Linked DNA regions of Homo sapiens: region 2 is linked to region 1. The links come from fine-mapping of genetic effects on gene expression. Tissue or cell type: aorta. Region 1 holds a variant in brackets; the other region holds the start of a gene. All regions are shown on one strand. Distances are between the middles of the regions.

Evidence for each region. PIP is the estimated chance that this variant, and not a neighbour inherited with it, causes the effect.
Region 2: it holds the start of CAMLG, and the variant in region 1 is fine-mapped to the expression of CAMLG in aorta (GTEx, PIP 0.98).

Annotation. Positions count from the first base shown.
Region 1 is chr5:134,640,531-134,648,632 of GRCh38, forward strand. It overlaps a transcript of SEC24A not described here. Among named protein-coding and RNA genes, the nearest start is that of SEC24A, 4.2 kb to the right of the region's middle. RefSeq lists enhancers at 7,796-7,855, 7,866-8,102, 7,903-8,102. The variant A/G (reference allele first, on the strand shown) is at 3,713.
Region 2 is chr5:134,734,666-134,742,767 of GRCh38, forward strand. CAMLG (calcium modulating ligand) reads left to right here and starts at 3,883. Exons shown (of 4, transcript NM_001745.4): 1 at 3,883-4,127; 2 at 6,398-6,858. The coding sequence starts at 3,956. RefSeq lists an enhancer at 3,471-3,520.

The DNA of each region.
Region 1 (8,102 bases):
GAGGGGAAGGTATACATCTTTAATACTGTGGTGTCAGGGTATCTGTAGATAAATAGTTGGGTTTAGAAATGGAAAAAGACACTTTGGGAGGCCAAGGCGGGTGGATGGCCTGAGGTCAAGAGTTCGAGATCAGCCTGGCCAACATGGTGAAACCCCATCTCTACTAAAAATACAAAAATTAGCTGGGGGCAGCCACTCATGCCTGTAATCCCAGCACTTTGGGAGGCTGAGGCGGGTAAATCACGAGGTCAGGAGTTTGAGACCAGCCTGGCCAACATGGTGAAACCCGGTCTCTACTAAAAATACAAAACATTAGGTGGGAGTAGTGACAGGCGCCTGTAATCCCAGCTACTTGGGAGGCTGAGGCAGAAGAATCGCTTGAACCCGGGAGGCAGAGGTTGTAGTGAGCTGAGATAGCACCACTGCACTCCAGCCCAGGCGACAGAGTGAGACTCCGTCAAAAAAAAAAAAAGCAAAAATTAGCTGGGTGTGTTGGCGGGCACCTGTAATCCCAGCTACTCGGGAGGCTGAGGTAGGAGAATTGCTTGAACCCAGGAGACAGAAGTTGCAGTGAGCCACGATTATGCCACTGCACTCCAGCATGGGTGACAGAGCGAGACTCTGTCTCAAAAAAAAAAAAATTAGCTGGGCACGGTGGCACACGCCTGTAGTCCCAGCTACTCTGCAGGCTGAGGCAGGAGAATCGCTTGAACCTGGAAGGCGGAGGTTGCATTGAGCCGAGATCGCGCCATTGCACTCCAGTCTGGGTAACAGAATGAGATTCTGTCTCAAAAAGAAAAAAGGAAAAAGAATTGGCATTTGATACTGTACCTCTAGCCCTTCCCGGGTGAGCTGGGCCTGAACAGGGGCTGGCACTACTTCAACTACAGTATTAGGCCTTATCACGATATAACATAACAGTCGAGAACCTGAAAGAACTTGAGACTTCTCATTACTAAGCACTCAAGTGAAAAAAAAAAAAGAACTTAGACCAACATAGTTTAGAAACAAGTGCTAGTGATGTGGTTTAGGCTATAAGTGCAATAGTAACTTATAGTAATGAATTAATGAGGGTCAAAAGAGTTAGAATAGGCCTTGGGCGGTGGTTCATGCCTGTAATCCCAGGACTTTGGGAGGCCGAGGCAGGCTGATTGCTTGAGTCCAGGAGTTTGAGACCAGCCTGGGTAACATGGTGAAATCCCGTCTCTACAAAAAATACACAAATTAGTGGGTGTGGTGGTGTGCACCTGTAGTACCAGCTACTCAGGAGGCTGAGGTGGGAGGATAATTGAGCCCCGGAAGTTAAGGCTACAGTGAGCTATAATCACGCCATTGCACTCCAGTCTAGGTGACAGAGTGAGACCCTGTTTCTAAAAAGGAAAAAAAAAGAAAACAAAATTAAAATTGTCAGAAGTCTGGAAGATAAAGACACTTTAAATTTATTCCTTCAAAAATGTTTACTGAATATTGTACCTGTTAAGTGTGAGGCCCCAAGCCAAGTGTTGAGAATACCCACACTTGTGTGAATAAGACACAGTCCTTGGTCTCTACTCACTGACGGTCTAACAGGGAAACAGACATGGTTACCTTGGAATTCACAGGCTATGTATAGACTTATGGTCCATTGAAAAAAGATAAACAGGCTGGGCACGGTGGCTCACACCTGTAATCCCAGCACTTTGGGAGGCCGAGGCAGGCGGATCACAAGGTCAGGAGATCAAGACCACCCTGGCTAACACGGTGAAACCCATCCTACTAAAAACACAAAAAATTAGCCGGGCGTGGTGGCAGGCGCCTGTAGTCCCAGCTACTCGGGAGGCTGAGGCAGGAGAATGGTGTGAACCTGGGAGGTGGAGCTTGCAGTGAGCCAAGATTGCGCCACTGCACTCCAGCCTGGGCGACAGAGCGAGACTCCATCTCAAAAAAAAAAAAAAAAAGAAAAAAGATAAACATAGACACATAGACACGAATAGGGCCAGGGTCAGTGGCTCACGCCTATAACCCCAGCACTTTGGGAGGCTGAGGCAGGAGGATCACTTGAGGCCAGGAGTTTGGGAGCAGCCTGGGCAACATGGTGAGACCTCATCTCTATCAAATAAGATAATAAAAAAGACACAAATATATAACAATAATAAGTGTTATGAAGAAACATAAGCAGAGTAAGAGGAACACAGAGTGAGCTGTGTCAGGTAGGATATTTAGAGAAGCCCTCTTCAATTAAAGTAATATTTGAACAAGGGCCTAAAGGAGTGAGTTTGAGTTCCCTAGATGTCTTGGGGAAGAGTATCCCAAGTAACAGAAATAAGTGTAATGGCAGGCTTGTGCTTGAATAGCTAGAGAAATAGCAAATGTGTCTGGAGTGGAGTGAGTGGGAAGGAGTGTGGAAGTCAAAGAGGTAGCAAGGCCAGGTCACGTGGGGCCGGGGTAGCACTCTGGATTTTACTTAGCTTGAGATGAGAAAAGTCATGCAGAAAAATTTTAACTTGATGGAGCAAGCAGAGGGAGTAATCACAGATCTGGGAGTATAGGAAAGTAAAAATGGAATCAGTGGTTAAGGAACTCAATTCAACATGTGGGATGGATTAGAGGCAATCCAGAAGGCGATTCATTCCCAACAGTTCAAGTGCAAGATGATGAAAAGTAACCAGAATGGGCAGGAAGAATGGTAAGAGCTACATAAAAATGAGAAGTTTTCAAAGAAAGCAATGGGATTTTCAGGCTTGGTGGGGATGAATGTACTTGTGATGTAGCTTCAGAGCTGCTGACTTCAGATACAAACAGCTGTCCTGTCAGAAGCAAATGAGGCCAAAGGAACTGTTCTTAAAATGGAACCAAAAGAGTTTCAGTAAACAAAACTGTTGTTCTTATAAACCTGTTTGTAACTGAAACTGTTCTTTGTTTGAAATAGAAATGGAACGGTCTTTTTTTTTTTTTTTTTTTTTTAACGGAGTTTTGCTCTGTCCCCCAGGCTGGAGTGCAGTGGCACGATTCCAGCTCACTGCAACCTCCACATCCCGGGTTCAAGCAATTCTCCTGCCTCAGCCTCCCGAGTAGCTGGGATTACAGGGAACTGCCAACATGCCCAGCTAATATTTGTATTTATAGTAGAGATGGGGTTTTACCATCTTGGCCAGACTGGTCTCAAACTCCTGATCTCTTGATCTACCCACCTTGGCCTCCCAAAGTGCTGGGATTACAGGTGTGAGCCATTGTGTCCGGCCGAACAGTATTTTTAATAATTAAAGAACCCAAAATAATTTACCCCTTCCTGAAAAGTAAAGCAAGTTGATCCTATTTATCACCTGAAAATGCAACAGTCATGAGCAGGCAGGCAAAGGAGCTCTGGTGTGAGCCTAAGTCCACTTCTGCATATCAGCAAATTTTATTAGAAATGCCTGTCTCCCAGTTTTGAGTCTAAATAATCAAATGTAATGGAATATTCTTAGTATAATGTTTATATCCTTACTGAAACAGTTTCTTGTCACTTATTTTGTTCTTTACAATTTTCTTTCTTTCTTTTTTTTTTTTTTTCAGACGGGGTTGTGCTCTGTTGCCCAGGCTGGAGTGCACTGGCGTGGTCTCGGTTCACTGCAACTTCTGCCTCCTGGGTTCAAATGATTCTTCTGCCTCAGCTTCCCGAGTAACTGGGATTACAGGCACCTGCCATCACGCCCAGCTAATTTTTTGTATTTTTAGTAGAGACAGGTGTTTC[A/G]CCATGTTGGACTGGCTGGTCTTAAACTCCTGACCTTGTGATCTGCTCGCCACGGCCTCCGAAAGCGCTGGGATTACAGGCGTGAGCCACTGCCCTGGGCCTACAATTTTCTTAACTAGGGTTGAAGGCTCTGAAAATATGCAGAAAATCATATAATGGCCTTATGAAGGTTGTATATATGGCAGAAGGATTCTGTTTTTCTGGACAATAAAGATAAAAAAGTAGAATATATTACTGACATCAGTTTAGAAAAATGTATAGTAGTGTAGTGTACATACAGGTAATTGAACAAAGAAATATCAATAACAATTGGTAAGAGCATTTTTTTTTTTTTTTTGAGACAGAGTCTCCCTCTGTCGCCCAGGCTGGAGTGCAGTGGCAAGATCTCAGCTCACTGCAACCTCTGCCTCCCAGGTTCAGCAATTTTCCCTGCCTCAGCCTCCCAAATAGCTGGGATTACAGGCGCCCGTCACCATGCCTGGCTAATTTTTGTATTTTTAGTAGAGACAGAGTTTCATCATGTTGGCCAGGCTGCTCTCGAATGCCTGACCTCAAGTGATCCACCCACCTTGGCCTACCAAAGTGTTGGGAATACAGGCGTGAGCCACAACGCCTGGCCAAGAGCAATTGTTATAATTGCTATCACCAATAATTTTTTCATATTTCTGTGGCCACACTTAAATGAGTCATCAAATGATTTGATATTGTGTGGATAATACTTAATATGAAAACTTTTAAAATATGTTGTCCCATCTCAGTTACTTAAACTTACCTTCCTACTATCCCAAAGGTTAGGCAGATGACAAATGCTGTTTTTCTTCTGTCTCTCTCTCTCTATATATATGTATATATGTATTCTGAGACAGGGTCTTACTCTGTTGCCTAGGCTGGAGTCCAGTAGCACAATCAACCTCCCAGGCTCAAGCGATCCTCCCATCTTAGTCTTCTGAGCAGCTGGGACTACAGGCATACGTCACCATGCCCAGCTAATTTTTTGTATGTTTTTGTAGAGATGGAGTTTTGCCATATTCCTCAGGCTGTTCTCCAACTCCTGGGCTTAGGGGATCCACTTGCCTTGGCCTCCCAAAGTCCTGGGATTATAGGCGTGAGCCACCATGCCCAGCTCTCCTCAATACTGTAGTGCTGATTACACCGAGAGTGTAAAAACCATTTGAAATACTTAATCATTGCTTTGAGGACACGAACAGTAACATAGCAACTTAGGGGTGGAACAAATTTTAGAGAAAGCATTGTTTACTTATTAGAAAATTATTTATGTTGATTTAACCTGATTTAACCAACTAGACTACTTTTTAAAATCTCTGGGGCCAGGCACGGTGGCTCAGGCCTGTAATCCCAGCACTTTGGGAGGCCAAGGCAGGTTGATCACCTGAAGTCATGAGTTCAAGACCAGCCTGGTCAACATGGTGAAACTCTGTCCCTAGTAAAAATACAAAAATTAGCTGGGCATGGTGACATGCGTCTGTAGTCCCAGCTACTCGGGAGGCTGAGGCAGGAGAATCACTTGAACCCGGGAGGCAGAGGTTGCAGTGAGCCGAGATCGCACCACTGCACTCCAGCCTGGCAACACAGCGACATTCCGTCTCAAAATAAATAAATAAATAAATAAATAAATAAATAAATCTCTGAACACACAGATATTGCTTAAATAGCTTGAACCCGGGAGGCAGAGGTTGCAGCAAGCCAAGGTCGCACCACTGCACTCTAGCCTGACGACAGAGCGAGATTCCGTCTCAAAAAAAAAAAAAAAAAAAAATCTCTGAACACACAGATACTGCTTAAATAGCACAAAGTTCAAAGAAACCTTGATTTAACCAAATCAAACCACTGTGCCAAGGTCAAAACAAATCAAGATCATTCAAAAGGAGCTGAATAAAAAGAGATAATTAAACTAATGCAGGTTTGAGATCAGGTATTTGCCTCTTTGAAGAGTGACCCTGATTTTGTCTGACCTCAGAAAGGTTGTTTCTCTCTGAGCTCTATTTCCTCTTCAAAACATTGAGAGGCTTGTGTCTGTGCAATTTTAAAGTGTTTTTGGATCTATAACTTGGGATTTTGTTATAGTGGCTCCAAACTGTAAACAATTTGACCAAAAGTATCATCTTCATCTTAAGATTTTAACTGGGCGTGGTGGCTCAAACCTGTAATCTCATTTTGGAAGGATGAGGCAGGAGGATCTCTTGCAAGACCTTCTCTTTACAAAAACAAACAAACAAACAAACAAACAAATAAAAACCTAGCCAGGCATAATGGCACACACCTGTAGTTCCAGCTACTCAGGAGGCTGAGGCTGGAGGACTGCTTGAGCCCAGGAGGTTGAGGCAGCAATGAGCTGTGACTGCACCACTGCACTCCAGCCTGGACAACAGACTGTCTCAAAAAAAAAAAAAAAGTTATTGTACTTGGATCTTGTACAAAGGAATTGAATTGTTAAATGCTACTTACAGCAAATATTTATTTATTTTTATTTTTTATTTTTTGAGACAGTCTTGCTGTGTCAGCCAGGCTGGAGTGCAGTGGCACAATCTTGGCTCACAGCAACCTCCGTCTCCTGGGTTCAAGCAATTCTCCTGCCTCATCCTCCTGAGTAGCTGGGATTACAGGCATGTGCCACCACACCTGGCTAATTTTTGTATTTTCAGTAGAGACAGAGTTTCACCATGTTGGCCAGGCTGGTTTTGAACTCCTGACCTCAGGTAATCCGCCCGCCTTGGCCTCCCAAAGTGCTGGGATTACAGTTGTAAGCTACCACGCCCGAGCAAATACATTTTTAGTAAAGTTCTGAGGCAAATGATGAAAACAGGGTTAGTATAAAATTTAGTATTTAGTTATTTGAATTTTTACTGACCTTTTTTAGGCCTGACACAGTGGTTTATTCTTTTTCTTTTCTTAGAGACAAGATCTCACTCTGTCATGCAGGCTGGAGTGCAGTGGTGAGATCACAGCTCACTGTAGCCTCGAACTCCTGGGTTCAGGTGATCCTCCCACATCAGCCTCCTGAGTAGCTGGGACTACAGGGATGTGCCACCACACTGGCCACTTTTTAAAAATTTATTTAATTAAAAACATTGGCTGGGCATGGTGGCTTACGCCTGTAATCCCAGCACTTTGGGAGGCTGAGGCGGGTGGATCAACTGAGGTCAGGTGTTCAAGACCAGCCTGGCCAACATGGTGAAACCCTGTCTCTACTAAAAATACAAAAATTAGCCAGGCATGGTGGCAGGAGCCTGTAATCCCAGCTACTCGGGAGACTGAGGCAGGAGAATTGCTTGAACCCAGGAGGCGGAGGTTGCAGTGAGCGGAGATGGCACCACTGCACTCCAGCCTGGGCAACAGACCAAGACTCTGTCTCAAAAATATATATATATATATATTTTTTAAATAGAGATAAGGGGACTCTCCCTGTTGTCCAGACTGGTCTCAAACTCCTGGCCTCAAGTAATCCTTCTGTCTCAGCCTCCCAAAGTGCTTGGATTACAGGAGTGAGCCACCTTGCCCAGCCCGACACAGTGGTTTAGATCTGGCTTTTTTTTGTATGTAATATAACACTTCATAGCAGGCATTTGGTATTAAATGAATTAGGTAAGATGTACTTCACACTGAGGTTTCGAAACCGCGTGGCATGACATTTTAATCCACAGTACAAATCTGTAAAGGAGGGCTTTATCGTCAGCACAGAGCAGGAAAAACCTAAATAGAATGAAGGCAGCTAAGATGATTACTCAATCATTAATTAACTATGTTGTCCAATCACCGCAGTTTCGACCTCCCTTTGGCTTCAAAAGTCAAAAAAGTCAACTTGCAAAAAAAAAAAAAGTCTACTTGCTCTGAAAGGAAGTTTGAGTTCTTTACCTTACTGTAAACTCTTAGAAGAGGAAACAAAACTGCCATTTAAATGTGCTAATGAACTTGAGCGTGACTATGCTGTGAATCAGCGAGTTTCAAAATTAAAATTCCTCTGAGTCCTCCAGTCAAAGACAAAGGCCTCCTTCTTGGCTTGATCACACTATTAACATGTACACATATTTAACCACCTCTTTTTAAAACCCCTTATAATTTACATCTGAAACACGAAGACGAAATGTGAATGAAATACTGCGATGAACATTAACCGCCCCAGCTCCCAGTGGTGGTACGGTCTCAACAGAGGACGATGACTTCTATGGTCTCAGGTAATCTTCACAAAACCCGAGGAGAGGAACTGTCAGTCCCACCCCACGAAAGCGGCTACTGAATCTCAGATTGCCCCACGATCCTGGCTCTGCGAGCGAGGTCACGTTCACAACGGCGGGAATTTCCGTAGCGGTGACACACGGCACTTCCGGCCGGCCGTGAGAGTCGGTGACGTGGCGGCGAGGCCGGGCACGGT
Region 2 (8,102 bases), 94 kb after region 1:
GAGAAAATTATTGAAATAAAATTTCTGGCTGGGTCCAGGGGCTCACACCTGTAATCCCAGCACTTTGGGAGGCTGAGAAGATTGGATTGTTTGAGCCCAGGAATTTAAGACCAGCAACATAGAGACCCCATCTCTACAAAAAATTTTTTTTAAAAAATTATCTGGGCTCGGCCGGGGACGGTGGCTCATGCCTGTAATCCCAGCACTTTGGGAGGCCAAGGCGGGCGGATCACGAGGTCAGGAGATCGAGACCATCCTGGCTAACACGGTGAAACCCCGTCTCTACTAAAAATACAAAAAAAATTAGCCGGGTGTGGTGGCCGGCGCCTGTAGTCTCAGCTACTTGGGAGGCTGAGGCAGGAGAATGGTTTGAACCCAGGAGGCGGAGCTTGCAGTGAGCCAAGATTGCGCCACTGCACTCCAGCCTGGGCGACAGAGCAAGACTCCATCTCAAAAAAAAAAAAAATTATCTGGGCTCAATCCTGTAGCCTTAGCTACTCAGGAGGCAGAAGCAGGAGGATTGCTTGAGCCCAGGAGTTCAAGGCTGTAGGCTGCAGTGAGCTATGATTGTGCCCCTGCACTCCAGCCTAGGCCATAGAGTAAGACCCTGTGTTTATAAAAATAAAAATTTGACTCATTATGGAATTTAGAGGAAGTAATTTGCTAATTTCTGAAAATTGTTCTTGAATTTCTTTTAAGCAGTTTCATCAATTCATTCTTTTACTCTTTTTCTTTTGAGACAAGGTCTAGCTCTATCACCCAGGTGGTTGTGGAGTGATGCAATCATGGCTCATTGCAGCAAACTTCCTGCCTCGTTTTAAATTTTTTTAAATTTTTTGATTTTTTTTTTTTTCTAGAGACGAGGTCTCACTATGTTACCCAGGCTGGTCTTGAACTCCTAAGCTTAAGCAGTCCTCCCACCTTGGCCTCCCAAAGCGTTGGGATTACAGGTGTGAGCCACTGCGCCTGGACTCTTTTTTTTTGTTTTTCTGAGACAGAGTTTCACTCTGTCGCCCAGGCTAGAGTGCAGTGGTGCAATCTCAGCTCACTGCAACCTCTGCCTCCTGGGTTTGAGTGATTCTCCTGCCTCACCCTCCCGAGTAGCTGGGATTACAGGTGTGTGCCACCATGCCTGGCTAATTTTTGTATTTTTAGTGGAGATGGGTTTCATCATGTTGGCCAGGTTGGTTTCGAACACCTGACCTCAAGTGATCCACCCACCTCAGCCTCCCAAAGTGCTGGGATTAAAGGTGTGAGCCACCGCACCTGGCCTCCCGATCTCTTTTCTTTGTTTTTAAATAGAGAAGGGGGTCTCACTATGTTGCCCAGGTCAGTCTTGAGCTCCTTGCCACAAGTGATCCTCCTGCCTGGACCTCCCACATGCCAGCCCAGACATTTTTTATAATTCTGTTCAAGTTCAGTTATACGGCTTCCTCAGTTTCAAGGAGGAATGAAATATTACTTGGAAATAATTTGCTTGATGCTTATATCATTGAATATAACACTATAATTCTAATTTAGCTCCTCAAACCCTTTCTGGAACCGTCTTGATTGATCAGGGCTGTGCCTCATCAAATTCTGCACATTTGTTACTATTTGACAGTTATTTCCATTATTTTCAGTTGTGTGTAAAATTGTTTTAAGGAAGTCTAGGGCTCAGAGATCTATGTCTGTGCAGATATGCAGAAGAACTTCCTCTAATACTTTAAAATTATTAACTAGTGGATGTCCCTGGGATTTAACTTTCATCCAATCAAGGGTGAAAGTTCAGTCTGTATATTCTTTGAGCTCCTTATGTTGTTGAATCCAAACCGAAGTTTCTTTTGTTTTCACTTCTTTTTCAGTATTAATATAAATATAGTATTTTATTATCTTCTAAGTGGTATTTCACCCACTTCCTTATTTTGAGGGTGATTGTGTGGCAGGCTTAGTTGCAGGGGGCCCACCCAGTAAGCTGCTTCAAAACCCTCCTCAGCCTCAGGTGTGAACTGGCCATGCTCCCTGTTAGCAAGGGTTGATGGATTCAATTCCTTCATTCATCTAATCATTCACTTAGTAAGTCATTACTGAATGCCAAGGCTGCATTATGACTTTCAAGGGCCCTAAGCTCTTTTGCCTTTGTGGCTCCTTCCTGCCTGAAAACATACTTAAAATTATATTTTATGACTGTATTGCTATTAATGATGACTATAATCCAGACTGGATCCATTACAATATAGCAAATATATTATTTTTTTCTGAAAAAACTTTTTTGAGATGGGGTCTCACTGTGTCACCCAGTCTGGAGTGCAGTGGCCCGATCATTGCTCACTGCAGCTTCAACCTCCCCAGGATCAGGTGATCCTCCCACCTTAGCCTCCCAAGTAGCTGGGACCACAGGCACACGCCACCAAGCCCGACTAATTTTTGTATTTTTAGTACAGTCAGGGTTTTGCCACGTTGGCCAGACTGGTCTCGAATTCCTGGCCTCAAGTGATCCACCCATCTCAGCCCTCACAAAGTGCTGGAATTACAGGCATGAGCCACCGCGCCCAGTCATTTGTTCTGATTTTATTTTATTTATTTCTTTTATATATGTATTTTTGAGACGGAGTCTCCCTCTGTCGCCCAGGCTGGAGTGCAGTGGCATGATCTCGGCTCACTGCAATTTCTGCCTCCCAGGTTCAAGCGATTCTCCTGCCTCAGCCTCCCAAGTAGCTGGGATTACAGGTGCATGCCACCAGGTCAGGCTAATTTTTGTATTTTTAGTAGAGACGGGGTTTTGCCATATTGGCCAGGCTGGTCTCGAACTCCTGACCTCAGGTGATCCGCCTGCCTCGGCCTCCCAAAGTTAGGATTACAGACGTGAGCCACCGCTCCCGGCCTTTTTGTTTTTTTCTTTTCTTTTCCTTTTTTTTTTTTGAGACGGAGTCTCGTTCTGTCGCCCAGGCTGGAGCATCTTTAGCATGCGAGGTGGTCATGAACGACAAGGAGAAAAAACAAGGTGAAGGGGAATGGGGAGTGTTGGCAATTTAGATAGAATGTGCACGAAAGGTTTCAATGGGAAATTCTAATTTGAATAAAAACGCACAAAACGCGAGGAAAGCCTAGGAACACATCAGCCGTATACTTTGCCGTAGAGAAGTTAAGGATGAGGAACAGGCACCAAGAACAAATCCCAGCGTAAGGCTCCCTTTAAGTGCGGCTCCCAGGGTTACGTATTCCCATTGCCTACAGGCGAGGCCGCGGGTCTGTAAACAAGCGACTGCCGCTGCAACCTCCATTTTGCTTCCTGGCACCAAATCTAGGCTGACCTACTTACTGCCATCCCTTTCCCACTCCCGGTTTTCTTTTCTTTCTTTTTTTTTTTCTCGAGACAGAGTCTCGCTCTGTAGCCCAGGCTGGAGAACAGTGGCGCGATCTCGGCTCACTGCAACCTCCGCCTCCTGGGTCCAAGAGATTCTCCTGCCTCAGCCTCCCGAGTAGCTGGGATTACAGGCGCGCGCCACCCCGCCCGGCTAAGTTTTTGTATTTTTAGTAGAGACGGGTGGGGGGAGGGGGGAGGGGGTCACCATGTTGGCCAGGCTACTCTCGAAATCGTGACCTCGTGATCCGCCCGCCTCGGCCTTCCAAAGTGCTAGGATTACAGGCGTGAGCCACCACTCCCGGCCCTGGGTGCTGGTTTTCTTCACCTCCGAGTGAACAGCAGAGGGGGCTGTTGGGTGAGGGCCAGAAGAGTTGGGGAGGCACGAGGGCGTCCAGCGCTGCCCTCACTCAAGATGGCGGCCAGAGCCTCGCGCTTGGTCGCGTGGGGCGGTGCGTGAGTGCTTAGCTCACAGGCTCCGGGACCGCGCTCGGGGGCGGGTCTATAGTGGGAAGGGGACGCGCGCCCTGCGGCCCGGCCTCTAGTCATCGCCCTCGCAGCGGCGGCCAACATCACCGCCACTGCCACCCCTCCCAGACTGTGGACGGGAGGATGGAGTCGATGGCCGTCGCTACCGACGGCGGGGAGAGGCCGGGGGTCCCAGCGGGCTCAGGTCTGTCGGCTTCCCAGCGTCGGGCGGAGCTGCGTCGGAGAAAGCTGCTCATGAACTCGGAACAGCGCATCAACCGGATCATGGGCTTTCACAGGCCCGGGAGCGGCGCGGGTAAGAGCCTCGATTTCCCCTCAGTCTCCCGCCCATCACCTTGAATCTTCAGGGTCATTCTTCCCTCTCCCACCTCCACTCCTCTGACCTTTTTGACCAAGCCTTGCTCTTTGATTTCCTCTCTGTCCCGCCCCTTCGGTGATATCCCAAGTTCTCATCCCTGAACCCCAGGATGTTCCTAGTCGCTCCCCTCAATTTTCCCGGGGCCTCGCCGTGAGATTTTCCCCACCCTGCCTGCAGAGCTCTCACTCCCTCTTCCCAGTTACGTTGAACAGCCCCTTTTTTCCTTAGCCACTCCTCGCCTTTCTTGAAGGGCGCACGTTGTATCCCCAGACTGTCATGTCTACTGCTCCCCTTAGGAAGATGGCTTTCCTTCTTAAGGTTCCAAGTGCTTTTCCTTACAGTGCCTTCTCTAGCGTCTACCTTCTTTTGCCTTTTGCTGTGTAACTCCTGTCCGCCCACATCAGCCTGTCTTTACTGAACTGCCCGCTAGTTCATCCTACGTGTATCAGGGACTCTTGTGCTCATATCCTAGTGTTTGTGTTCAGTGCCGTCAACACTGTCACCTACGGGCCGGCTAGAAAAGGTGGGAAAAGTGAGAGTGAGCATTCTTCAGAGACCCAGCAAGTGCGAAGTGCACACCTGAGAGTTTCCTCTCCTCATGAGGGGATATTGTTGTGATTGATGTCTGGAGCTGCATTTCTAAGGAGAGCGCCTCCTTCCTCCCCCAAACACATGTCCAATGATTTTCTTTAAAAAAAATTTATTTCACGTGAGTATAATTGAGCAATTAGCGCGCCCTAGTGTTATCTAAGTTTCCAGTGTTTCCTTTAGTAATTGGCCTTTAGTCACTGGTCGCAAGCTCCTTATATCTTTGTGACTTTTGTTCTGTAAGGCTTTAGGTGTATAGCTCTGAACTTTTAGGCAGTTCAAATGAGAGGTAAGAAAACCATTTCAAATTCTTCTAGAACAATAGAAGAAACATTTTTCTATCGGGCTATTTATTCTTAAAGCATTATTTATGATCTTACCTGAGGTACTTTCTATATTTTGTTCTTTTGCTTTGAAAATTTTATGTCTTTAAAGGTTGTTTTATTTTTTGAGACAGGGTCTCCCTCTGTAGGCCAGGCTGGAGTGCAGTGGCATGATCATAGCTTACTGCAGCCTCAAACTCCTGGGCTTAAGCAATCCTGCTACCTCAGCCTCCGGAGTAGCTAGGACCACAGGTGTACACCACCATGCCTGGCTAATTTAAAAAAAAATTGTGTGTGTGGAGATGGGGGGGTCTCACTATGTTTCCTAAGCTGGTCTGGAACTTCTGGGCTCAAGTGATCCACCAGCCTTGGCTTCCAAAAGTGCTGGGCTTACAGGATTACAGGTGTGAGCCATTGTGCCTGGCCTTTTTTTTAAAACAAAAACAAAAACAAAACCCCAGAGTAGTGTCTTAAAACTGCTGAAGTGCCTACTAATGGCTGCCTGACTACATAAACAGTAGCTTTGGGATATGCCACACCCTATGCTCATAGGGCACTGGATTCAGAAATCTAATTTTAAAATATAGATTTTAAAAGGCTTTACTGATTTTATATTTTTAACCAAATAAGCTAAGGCAGGCAATGCAATCATACATCTGGGATATATTATCCATAAAAAGTTGGTCTTTTCAGCTTGCTCCATCTCTGAATATCTTTCCCAGTTTGTCTACTAATCTTATCTCCTACCCACAAAGTTTGGGTTATTTCCTCTGCAGAATATTCATTTTGGGTGATACATTTTGAGGGTGTAGAGGAAGAATCCAGCTTTTTTCTTTTTTTTGTTTTGAGATGGAGTCTCACTCTGTCGCCAGGCAGATGCAGATGGAGTGTAGTGGCGCAGTGTCTGCAACCTCCTCCCCCCGGGTTTCAAGTGATTCTCCTGCCTCAGCCAGAGTAGCTGGGACTATAGGCAGCTGGGACTACAGACACACGCCACCACACCCAGCTAATTTTTGTATTTTTAGTAGAGACGGGGTTTCACCATGTTGGCTAGGATGGTCTCAATCTCTTGACCTCATGATCCGCCCGCCTCAGCCTCCCAAAGTGTTGGGATTACAGGCGTGAGCCACGGCACCTGGCCGAAACCAGCTTTTCTTTAATGCAGAATCGGTATTTATTTATTTTGATGCAGAGGCTGCTGAGTTCTAGCTGCAACAGCATATTTTAAAACATAAACATGTAAGGTGTTTGCCAGTATGGAATAAATACATAAGGCTTTTACATTTCTTTTCTCAGAAGAAGAAAGTCAAACAAAATCAAAGCAGCAGGACAGTGATAAACTGAACTCCCTCAGCGTTCCTTCCGTTTCAAAGCGAGTAGTGCTGGGTGATTCAGTCAGTACAGGAACAACTGACCAGCAGGGTGGTGTGGCCGAGGTAAAGGGGACCCAACTGGGAGACAAATTGGACTCGTTCATTAAACCACCTGAGTGCAGTAGTGATGTCAACCTTGAGCTCCGGCAGCGGAACAGAGGGGACCTGACAGCGGACTCGGTCCAGAGGGGTTCCCGCCATGGCCTAGAGCAGTACCTTTCCAGATTCGAAGAAGCAATGAAGCTAAGGAAACAGCTGATTAGTGAAAAACCCAGTCAAGAGGATGGAAATACAACAGAAGAATTTGACTCTTTTCGAATATTTAGATTGGTGGGATGTGCTCTTCTTGCTCTTGGAGTCAGAGCTTTTGTTTGCAAATACTTGGTAAGAAAAGATCTGTAAATTATTAACTAACTTAATGGAAAATGCAAAATGTTAATAATTATGAGTGCTTTTGATCATAGAAGTCATTGCCAGTATTAATATCTACCAGATCCATGTGGCTGTTTGAAGATATATTATTAACTTTGCTATTCATCTCATAGAATGAAGTGTTCTGGTTAAATACAGAGCCTAATAATTACTGTTGGCCCTCCATATCAGTTGGTTCTGCACCCTATGTGGATTCAACCAATTGTGGATTGAAAATATTTGGATTTAGCCGGGCGTGGTGGTGCACGCCTGTAATCCCAGTTACTTGGGAGGCTGAGGCAGGAGAATCGCTTGAACCCGGGAGGTGGAGGTTGCAGTGAGCCAGGATAACGGCACTGCACTCCAGCCTGGGTGACAGAGTGAGACCCCGTCTCAAAAATATATGTATGTGTATATATTTGGGGGAAAAATAACAATACAACAATAACAAATAGTAAATAATACAAATAAAAACAGTATAACAACTATTTACATTGCATTAGGCATAAAAAATCTAGAAATGATTTAAAGTATATGGGAGGAAGTGAGTAGGTTATATTTACTGTGCCGTTTTACATAAGGGACTTGAGCATCTATGGATTTTGGTATCAGGAGGAACCTGGTACCAGTCCTCTGCTGATACTGAGGGATGACTGTACTAAAACCCATTTTTCATTCTACGGACCTTTCTCATTGTTTTGCATACATTAATTCATCTAATCCTCATTCTTATGAACTTGGTATTATGTGAATCCATTGGGAAATGAAGACTCAGAGAGGTTAAACCATTTGCCCAAGGTCACACAGCTACTAAGCGGTGCTAGGATTAAACCCTGGCAGTTTCAGTCCTTAACCAAAGGGTTAAGTGCTTTACATATATATACTGTATATTATCAATTTTCAAATAATTTGAAATAGTAAAATGCAGTTCCTCTGGTCCTGAATATGAGGTAATCTTCCTATGGTTCAGAAGACATTTCAGCATTTCCTAATATATCATAATGAGTCCATTTTGGTTGTACCATGATGTAGTCATTTTGTTTTATAGTATATTAAAGAATGCAGAAAAGCATAGCTCATAGTTCAGTGTCTTGCTCTGAGGTTTTTCCATTCAGTAGACATTTTAAGTATATGTACCAGGCACATAAATATCCAGATAATTAAAGTTTATATCATTAAGCAAAACAGTTTTTGTAAATCTTTTTTTTTTTGAGGTG